2 separate regions of the Homo sapiens genome follow, and region 2 is linked to region 1. Evidence: fine-mapped expression QTL. Tissue or cell type: whole blood. Region 1 holds a variant in brackets; the other region holds the start of a gene. All regions are shown on one strand. Distances are between the middles of the regions.

Evidence for each region. PIP is the estimated chance that this variant, and not a neighbour inherited with it, causes the effect.
Region 2: RANGAP1 starts here. The variant in region 1 is fine-mapped to the expression of RANGAP1 in whole blood (TOPMed, PIP 0.98).

What each region holds. Positions count from the first base shown.
Region 1 is chr22:41,370,508-41,375,813 of GRCh38, forward strand. LOC105373042 (a long non-coding RNA gene) reads right to left here. Exons shown (of 3, transcript XR_938271.3): 2 at 4,527-4,667; 3 at 141-2,226. It also overlaps a transcript of TEF not described here. Among named protein-coding and RNA genes, the nearest start is that of TEF, 8.8 kb to the right of the region's middle. The variant C/CT (reference allele first, on the strand shown) is at 2,971.
Region 2 is chr22:41,284,123-41,289,428 of GRCh38, forward strand. It overlaps RANGAP1 (Ran GTPase activating protein 1), which reads right to left and starts at 2,065. Exons shown (of 16, transcript NM_002883.4): 1 at 1,864-2,065. RefSeq lists enhancers at 1,768-1,837, 2,268-2,487, 2,518-2,587, 2,908-2,957.

The sequences.
Region 1 (5,306 bases):
GTTCAAGCAATTCTCCTGCCTCAGTCTCCTGAGTAGCTAGGATTACAGGCACCCGCCACCACGCCCGGCTAATTTTTGTATTTTTAGTAGAGACAGGTTTCACCATGTTGGCCAGGCTGGTCTCAAACTCCTGACCTCCAGTGATCCAGCTGCCTCAGCCTCCCAAAGTGCTGGGATTACAGGCGTGAGCCACTGCACCCAGCCTCATTCCGTTTTCTAGTTCATTGATGCCCCTTGAAACCCAGACTTGGGGTCCCTCTCCCTCGTGCTGCCCCTGGGCCTCCCAGCCCAGCCCGTGTAGACCTTGCCTCTTTCCTGTCCCTGGATAAACAGACTTTCTCCACCAGAGCTGACCAGCTCCCAGACTCCCTTGGCTTCCAACGACAATGGCTTCTTGGTGGCCTTCACTCTAGGCCATGAGTTCAAACAATTTCTCTTTTGGCAGAGAAATCCATTTCCAGCAAAAGGGTGGGTCTGTAGCCAAGCCCTGACTCAGTTTCCCCTCTATGTCCCTGGGCCCTAAATCCTGAAAACCACTCTTCCTGTCTTCACTCCCAACCTGTCTCCCAAGGATACTTTTCCAAGAGTTGATTCTGTTCCAGACTGCTCACTCCAGCTCTTAACGTCTTTCTCTTCCAGCTTCTGGAAAGACACTGTGTCTCTAAATCATATGATTAGCATTTTATACCCTATACTTCCCTCTCCCATGGGGCCCTGGCCATGCTTAGAGACACCTCCTCCCATTTTCTTGCCATCTCCGGTCACTCAGGCCTCCGTTTCAGGGAGTTGTGAAGCCGGAACATACACCTCAAAGGCTGAACAAGGCCTTTGCTTTGGGCTGGGCAGGCGGCATCCCCACGTAGGGGCACTCCTGATCTAGAATCCTTTCTAGGCAAGGCAGTGTGGCCCTGGGAAGAGAGCAGGGGGCTTATGATCAGAGTCAGGCCACAAATCCTAATTCTACAACCCACTGGTTGGGACTTGCCCCCCTCTCTCTCCATCTCCAGACTTTAAAAAGCGGAAAAGAATATCTGTGCCATGAGCTTGTTGCCAAGATTAAGTGAGTTATCCCATGTGAAAGTGTCTGCAAACCGTGAGATGCTGTGCTGGTTTTTTCTGTGAAAGGCAAACAGCAGCATGGCCTGGCGTCGTGCGTCTTCCACCTACATCCCATTTGCAACCTGACCCTCATTCCCTTCTTTCCACCTTCCTTTGAAGAACTGGATGGTACAAGTTGGTGTGTACACACACACACACGGCTGTCTCCTTGGAAACACATGCTGAGGCTCCTAGAGGCATGGTGCCATCTGCCCTGCACCCAATGGGACAGCCCCATTTCATAACAGGCAGGATCTCAGTAGGACTTGCTGGGGCAGAGGCAGGGGTACAGGAGGGGGCCTTGGTGTCATCCTCTTGGTGGACTGAGGGAAATGAGCCGAGAGTGTGGACTCGGTGCAGCCTGGGCTCTCCTGAGCTTGGCCTGAGTGAAGGGCCCTGTGTTTGCCTCCATGCACAGCCTGGGAACCAGAGCAAAACTGAGAAATCGAGGAGTTTGCTTTCAGGGACGAGGATGGGGAGAGGGCCTTCTATGTGCTGGATATGCTAGCTCATTTAATCCTCACTGCCTCTTTCTAAATGGTATATTTCCCCTGTTATTCTGGTGAGAAAATGAACAAAGAGGCACTGGCTACCCTCAGGGCCAGTCTCTCTCTTCTTCCTTCCCACCCTAGGTGCCCAGAGCCTTCTTCTCTACCTGCCCCCCACCCCATCCCTTCAGAGAAATGTGAGAAACTCATTCTTACCAAGTGCCAGGCATTGACGGCATGTCGAGGAGTGATCCTTCCAGATGGCTAGGCTGCTGCAGGACGGGCTCCTGACTTGACAGCCACTGTCTCCTGAGCGTGAGCCAGGACTGTATTGTGTGTGCCTATGTCACTATCTGTGCAATGGCTCTGCAAGGAAGGTATGATCATCCACTCTACGAATAAGGACATCGACGCTCAGAGAGAGGAAAGGCCACACAGTTGTTGAAGGATTCAAACCCAGTTCCTCCTGACACCAGGCTCGTGTCTACCCATAGGGTGGGTACCCATGTGGGTACCATGTCTCGGGTCGTAGCTCTTCGTCACCCAGCCACTCATCACGTGCTTCCAGAGCGTTTGCTATGCTTGGAGAGCCCGGGGTGAATGAAACCAACTCTACTCTTGCTCCCCTGGTGTTTGGATTCTAGAGGGGAGAGAGAATCTGCTGTGTTTAGGCAGGAGGCGGTGGTGGTCAGGACCAGCCTCTCCCAGGGAGAGGCATTTGAACTGAGGCCTGGAGGCCTGGAGGGTGAGGAAGAGCCAGCTACCCGAGGAACTTTCAGGCTGTGGGAAGAGCACCTGCAAAGGCCCTTCCTGGGACAGGAAAGAAAACGGGTCTGAGGAATAAAAGGCCACCATGGCTGCAGAAAGCAAGCAAGGGGGAGAGGGGTACCAGGTGAGGCTGGAGAGACCCGAAGGGCGAGCACCTGCAGAGCTTTGACGGTCATAAAGAGGAGTGACGCTCTCATCTCCCTGTCTGTAAGGACCCTCACACTCACTATTCTTGGGGAAGTGGCTGGTGGGGAGAAATTAGGTATCCCCAGAACAACCCAAGCAGGAATTACAGTAGAGTTAACTTTGACCGAGCACATGCTATAGGCCAGGTGGTGTCCTAGCACTGTGCCTGAATGGACTACTTTACTTCGGACACCACGGTACAGAGAAGTTCAACAATTTGTCCAAGGTCACCAAGAAATACAGTTAACCCTTGAATACCACAGGGATTAGGAATGCTGCCCCGCCATGCAGTAGAAAATCTGCATATAATTTTTGACTCCCCAAAAGCTTAACCACTAATAGCTTATTGTTGATGGGAAGCCTTACAGATAACATCAACAGTCCATGAACATATATTTTGTATGCTATATGTATTAGATAGTATATTTTT[C/CT]TTTTTTTTTTAGACGGAGTCTCACTCTGTCGCCCAGGCTGGAGTGTGGTGGCGTGATCTAGGCTCATTGCAACCTCCGCCTCCCAGGTTCAAGCAATTCTCCTGCCTCAACCTCCTGAGTAGCTGGGATTATGGGCGCCCACCACCACGCCCAGATAATTTTTGTATTTTTAGTAGAGACGAGGTGTCACCATCTTGGCCAGGCTGGTCTTGAACTCCTGACCTCATGATCCACCTGCCTTGGCCTCCCAAAGTGCTGGGATTACAGTCGTAAGTCACCACGCCCGGACTTTTTTTTTTTTTTTTTGGAGACGGAGTCTCCGTCACCCAGGCTGGAGTGCAATGGTGTGGCCTCGGCTCACTGCAACCTCTGCCTCCAGGGTTCAAGCGATTCTCCCGTCTCAGTCTCCCGAGTAGCTGAGACTACAGGCGCATGCTACCACACCCGGCTAATTTTTGTATTTTTAGTACAGACAGGGTTTCACTATGTTGTCCAGGCTGGTCTGGAACTCCAGACCTCATGATCTGCCTGTCTCAGCCTCCCAAAGAGCTGGGATTGCAGGCATGAGCCACCGCGCCCAGCCTATATACTGTATTCTTACAACAAAGTAAGCTACAGAAAATAAAATGTTATTAAGAAAATCATGGCCGGGCGCAGTGGCTCACGTCTGTAATCCCAGCACTTCGGGAGGCTGAAGTGGGAGGAGTGCTTGAGCCCAGGAGTTTGAGACCAGCCTGAGCAACATAGTGAGACCCTGTCTCTACCAAAAAAATTAAAAATTAGCTAGGCAAGCCAGGCATGGTGGCTCACGCCTGTAATCCCAGCACTTTGGGAGGCCGAGGCAAGTGGATCACAAGGTCAGGAGATCGAGACCATCCTGGCTAACATGGTGCAACCCTGTCTCTACTGAAAATACAAAAAAAATTAGCCGGGCGTGGTGGCGGGCACCTGTAGTCCCAGCTACTCGGTAGGCTGAGGCAGGAGAATGGCGTGAACCCAGGAGGCAGAACTTGCAGTGAGCCGAGATCGCGCCACTGCACTCCAGCCTGGACAACTGAGCAAGACTCTGTCTCAAAAAAAAAAAAAAATTAGCCAGGCAAGGCAGTGCACACCTGAAATCCGAGCTACTCTGGAGGCTGGGGCAGGAGGATTGCTTGAGACCAGCAGTTCAAGGCTGCAGTGAGCTATGACAGCATCACTGCACTCCAGCCTGGGGGACAGAGCAAAACTGTCTCAAAAAAAAAAAAAAGAAAAGAAAATCATAACAGAATCTTAACTAAGTTGAAGTGGATCATTGTAAAGGTCTTCAGCCTTGTCTCCATATTGAGTAGGCTGAGGAAGAGGAGGAGGTGGAGGAAGAAGAGGGGTTGATCTTGTTGTTTCAAGGGTAGCAGAAGTTGAAGGGGAGGCAGGAGAGGCAGGCAAATTTAGTGTAACTTTTGTTGAAAAAAATCCACATGTAAGTAGACTCATGCAGTCCAAACCCCTGTTGTTCAAGGGCCGACTAAAGTGGAAGCAGGAGTCAGCCCCAGGGGGTCTGGCTCCAGAGGCCCACCTCTGTCCCCTCCAGCACGTCTTTGACTGCAGAAACCGTGGCTATCTGGTAGTGGCTTCTGAGACATCACACAGGGCAGAGGTGAGGGCTTCTCTCTGGAAAGGGCACTCTTGAGGGAGCTCTCCATTTGCAGACCAAGCCCTGGTAGCGGACAGAATGCAAGACAAACAGGAAACTAGCACTTTTGAGAGTACTGACGAGGAGGGCAAGAATCAGTAAAGAGCCTCCACCCACCACTTCTCCCCTGGAACACACTGAGACCAAGGAGGGTACAAACCACAGAGCCCAGGCACAGGTATGTGGGCTAAAAAGGAGAGCTGCTGGCAAGGCTTGTGCGGGCAGACTTGCCAAAGGATGGCTCATGTTTGCTGTTCCAGGTTCAATTGTGAATCAAACACAATGCCTGTTATTTGATGTTATTAATGCTCCAAATGCGGCCGGGCGTGGTGGCACACGCCTGTAATCCCAGCACTTTGGGAGGCCGAGGCGGGCGGATCGCGAGGTCAGGAGATCGAGGCCATGCTGGCTAACACAGTGAAACCCCGTCTCTACTATAAATACAAAAAAATTAGCCGGGCTACTTGGGAGGCTGAGACAGGAGAATGGTGTGAACCCAGGAGGCAGACCTTGCAGTGAGCCGAGATTGCGCCACTGCACTCCAGCCTGGGCAACAGAGCAAGACTCTGTCTCAAAAAAAAAAAAAAAAAATTGCTCCAAATGCATATCATTTAGCTCTGAAAGGTTTGGTTAACTGTCCTACTAGTACCAAGAACAAAGCAA
Region 2 (5,306 bases), 86 kb before region 1:
TGTAGTCCCAGCTACTCGGGAGGCTGAGGCAAGAGAATGGCATGAACCCGGTAGGTGGAGCTTGCAGTGAGCTGAGATTGCGCCACTGCACTCCAGCCTGGGCAACAGAGCGAGACTCACCTCAAAAAAATAAAATAAAATAAAATAAAATAAAAATTAACCAGGCCGGGTGCGGTAGCTCACGCCTATAATCTCAGCACTTTGGGAGGCTGAGGTGGGTGGATTACCTGAGGTCGGGAGTTCGAGACCACCCTGGCCAACATGGAGAAACCCTGTCTCTACCAAAAATACAAAATTAACCGGGCGTGGTGGCACATGCCTGTAATCCCAGCTACTCAGGAGGCTGAGGCAGGAGAATCGCTTGAATCTGGGAGGCAGATGTTGGGGTGAGCTGAGATCGTGGCATTGCACTCCAACGTGGGCAACAAGAGTGAAACTCCGTCTCAAAAAAAAAAAAAATTAACCAGAGTCGGGTGTAATGGTTCACTCCTGCAATCCCAGCATTTCCGGAGGCTGAGGTGGGCGGATCGATTGAGCACAGGAGTTAGAAACCAGCCTGGGCAGTATGCCGAAACCCTGTCTCCACTAAAAATACAAAAACTAGCTGGGTGTGGTGGCAGGTGCCTGCAGTCCCAGCTACCTGGGATGTAAGGTGGGAGGATCACTTGAGCCCCGTAGGTGGAGGCTACAGTGAGCTGAGATCTTGCTGCTGTACTTCTGGAGACCCTGTTTCAAAAAATAAATTAACCAGAAACCAGCCCAGTGCAATAACTCACACCTGTAATTCCAACATTTTGGGAGGCTAGGCGGGAAGATCACTTTAGACCAGGGTTCGAGACAAGCCTGGGCAACAGAATGAGACCCTGTCTCCACAGAAAAATTTAAAAATTAGCCAGGTGTGATGGCATCTGTAGTCCCCATGACTTGGGAGGTTGAGGTGGGAGGATCGCTTGAGCCCAGGAAGCCGACGCTGCAGTTCAGCGGTGATCGTTCCACTACACTCCAGCCTGGGTGACAGAAGGAGACCGTCTCTAAAAAGATAAAAAAATTTAAAGAAAAACCAACAAAAAAATTAACCTGAAACCCCAGCATCTCTTGCAGTTCTGAGATGGGACAATTTGAGGGTAAAAGGTGGTGGTGAAGCCTCCAGATAGAATAGGGACAGAACTTCTCAGCTGAACGGGGGCCCATTCCTCAGTCCAAGAGAGAGCGAGACAGAGATGCACCCCTCCACACTCACTTTATAAACCAAGAAACTGGAGCACAGAAACGTAAATTGATTTGTCCAAGGTCAGCAAAGGATCAGCGCCAGAGCAAAAGCAAAGGGCTAATAGAGAAACATCCTCTCCCCGCTCCGCAGCAACGTCAGAGACTTTCTGAGGTGAGATGCATGCTCCTGCAAAGCGTCAGCAGTGACTCACATCGATTCCAGGGACAGCGGCGCCAGCCCGGGGCCCCCGCGGGCGTGGGCCTGCTGGGAGGTGGCTCTGCGGGAGCGACGCGCGAATACAGGCCGCAAATGATAGGCGGGCGGCGCAGGAGCCCCATCTGGAATCCCCGGCGGACTCGCACCGCCTCCGGTTGACAACAATGCTAATATGAGACGCCACTGCTAGCAGCTGCAGGCTGAGCTGCTCTGGCGAGTCAGACGCCCTTTAAGCCTCAGTTTCCCCATTTGTGAAAGGAGCCAGCGCCGCTCAACAACCCCACTCCCACCGCCACCCCTGGGGCGCTCGGCCGTCGAAGGCTAAGTGAAGAAGGCCGAGGGGGCAGGCAGAAGGCGCACACGGGCGCCACGCCCTCCTCGCCCCGCACCCCTGTTCCAGGCAGGTGACGGGGAAAGGAAAGGGACCCTGACTCTACCGTAAACAGGCGGCGCCGCCGCGTGGGGGGAATCGAGCGCGCGCCTCCGCCCTCTGGGGCGGGGACGGATTTAGGGTCCGGGTCAGGCCGGGGTCGCCACCTCCGGATCCAGCGGTCCAGATGTCCAGCCGGCTAGTCTGTTAGCTCTCTCGAGCTCCCGGCCTCACGCGCTTCCAGCACCACCTGCTCTCCGCACCGCGGCGGATGATGGCGGAGGAGGAGGATTTTGAAAGCCGGCAGTTTCTTTGCTTCGATTTGATTTGTTCGAGGCCCCGGCCGGCTTGCCCTCGCCCCGCTCGCGCGGCCTCTCGGGTAGAGTAGTCCGGTTCCCCATCTGGGAGCGCGATGGGGCGCGCACCGCGAACTACCCGTCCCATGGCGCACCGCGCGCAGAGCGTCCTCCACCGCCCTCCTCTTCGCCCTCCCCTGGTGGCTTCTGGCTCTTTCTCGCAGAGACCGCAGGGAGGTGTTCAGCCGGGAGCGCCCAGAGACTACAATTCCCAGAATGCGTTGCACCCAGGTCCCTCAGCTCTTCCGGAAAGGTTTTGTTCGCGTAACTTTGTTGATAACAGGTACTGCTGGCTGCTGGGTCTCTTGGGCAAGACACAGGTATCCATTTCCCGAAAGAAAAGACTCTTTTCCGTCCCATGAAACTGAAAGGGCATTCGAAGGCTTCCACATAAATATGCACAAATTACCTGATAATTAAAAAGGGGAAATAGTAACTATCGTAGAGAAGCTCCGCAGACACCACTTGAACGGCCACGTTAACATCAACAGCAGGACAAGCTGACATTCATCGCACGCTTTCTGTGTGATGCACTGAGAAAAACACGGCGTCACCGTCCGGTCTATAATGCATGACCTTAGTCTAATCATGAGAAACCCAAGCTGAGGGACATGGTACAGAATAACTGATCTGTACCCTTCCGGAAATGTCTGTATTATGTAAGACAAAGAAAAACTGAGGAACTGTTGCCGATTACAGGAAACGAAAAAGACAACTGAATGCAAGACATGGTCCTGGATCGGATCCTGGGTGGGGATTGCTATAAAGGACAATACTGAAACAGCAAAACTTGACTATATTAGATAATAGTATTGTATCAATGTTAAATTTATTAATTTTGATTATGGTACAGGGTTATGTAAGAGACTGCCCTTGTTCTTGGAAAAAAATGCTGAAATAATTAGGGACAAAAAGGACATGATGTCTGCAACCTTTATGGTTAAAAGAAATATACCTATACATATACATAGAGAAAGCAGAGACACAAATGTGGCAAAATGTTAATCAGTTAATCTGGTTGAAGAATATGGGAGTTCTTTGAACATTTTTGCAACTTTTCTGTAGGTGTGAATTTAAGCATAAAAACACAAACAGCGTTTTTTTTTTGTTTTTTTTTTTTGAGATGGAGTTTCACTCTTGTTGCCCATCTTGGCCTCCCAAAGTGTTGGGATTATAGGCGAGAGAGTGTGAGACCAGCCTGGGCAACATGGTCAAACCCTGTCTCGACAAAAAATACAAAAATTAGTTGGACGTGATGGTGCAAGCCTGTAGTCTCAGCTAAGGGCCTGAGGCAGGAGGATCTGGAGCCTGGGAGCTTGAGGCTGCAGTGAGCCGTGATTGCACCACTGCATTTCAGCCCTGGCGACAGAGCAAGACCTTGTCTCAAAAACTGAAAAAAGAAAAAAAAAAAAAGTTAAACAGATCATGCAGGCTGGGCGCAGTGGCTCACACCTGTAATCCCAGCACTTTGGGAGGCCGAGGCGGGCGGATCACCTGAGGTCAGGAGTTTGAGACCAGCCTGACCAAAATGGAGAAACCCCGTCTCTACTAAAAATATAAAATTAGCTGGGCATGGTGACGCATGCCTGGAATCCCAGCTACTCGGGAGGCTGAGGCAGAAGAATCGCTTGAACCCGGGAGGCGGAGGTTGCAGTGAGCCGAGACGCACCATTGCACTCCAGCCTGGGCAACAAGAGCGAAACTCCGTCTCTAAATAAATAAATAAATTAATTAATTAATTAACAGATCATGCCATATCCTTTTACACACAGCTCATTTAATCTTCACCACCACAAGGGAAGTGGGCATCATTACCACCCTTCCCAGCACAGAGATGAGAAAACTGAAGCTCTAGACAGAGTGTAACTCTCCCAGTTCTCAAAGTTCCTGAGATGTGGATCCTCTTTCCACCTTCCCTCTCCTTTTTACCTACAAGGCCCATGTCAAATGCTACTTCATGAGTCTCTCCCTCCTGCAGGTGCCCACAGCAAGATGCAAAGCCCCACAGCAGTTGGCCTGGGACTCTGGGGCTCTTTGACAGAGTTAACACTGTTCTTGGCAGTTTCCTCCTCAGCCTGGGAGGGTCTCCAGAGCAGACGCTGTATCCATCTGGGCAGTATCTTCTCTGGGCCTGGCCTGTCATAGGTGCTTCAGGTTTCCCCATTTGAACCAGATACCAGTCGGGTTACCGGATGTTTGCTTAAAATGAGTCATAGGCTTCCTGCTATTCCTGTGCTGCTTCCAGCTAGGACTGATCGAATCAGTCTGGATTTTCCTTGGGGTGATCCGCAGGCTCCCTTTTCCAATTTTACTTCTTGAGACTTTCCTTGGCCCTCACACAGAGACCTCCCAAAGGGAAGAGGAAGGTGGGCAGGGGAACATCTTAGCTGATCCCGTCCTCATCCAGCTGATAGGACATTGGGTTTTCGGAACTGGAAGGGAATTCTTAGACAACAGAAATTCAGTGGCCTTCAAGGACCTGGGAGGTAACAGGAAGTCATGGGGCTTGTCGGGGCTTGGTGGGGCTTGGGGGGAGTTAGAGAGTGGATGTTCTGCCTGAAGGTGTTCACATTCGAAGCTAAAAATCACAAACTCAGCCTGACAGCACCCCCTAGCAATCTGGATTCTGTCACTCCTATATCCTGATTTTTTTTTTTTTTTTTTTTGAGATGGAGTTTCACTCTGTTGCTCAGGCTGGAGTGCAGTGGTGCGATCTCAGCTCACTGCAACCTCCGCCTCCCAGGTTCAAGTGATTCTTCTGCCTCAGCCTCCCGAGTAGCTGGGACTACAGGTGCACGCCACCACGCCCGGCTAATTTTTGTATTTTTAGTAGAGACGGTTTCACCATATTGGCCAGGATGGTCTCAAACTCCTGACCTGGTGATCCACTTACCTCGGCCTCCCAAAGTGCTGGGAGTACAGTACAGGCGTGAGCCACTGTGGCCGGCCTCCTGAATCTATCTTAAACCTCTTTACAAATGGGGAGACTGGGGTTTGAAAAGGAACAGGGGGTTTGCCCAAGGGTGCCCAGTGAATCAGAAGAATCAAGAATCATCACTGTTTCTGGCCGGGCACAGTGGCTCATGCCTGTAATCCCAGCACTTCGGGAGGGCGAGGCAGGTGGATCATCTGACGTCAGGAATTCGAGACCAGC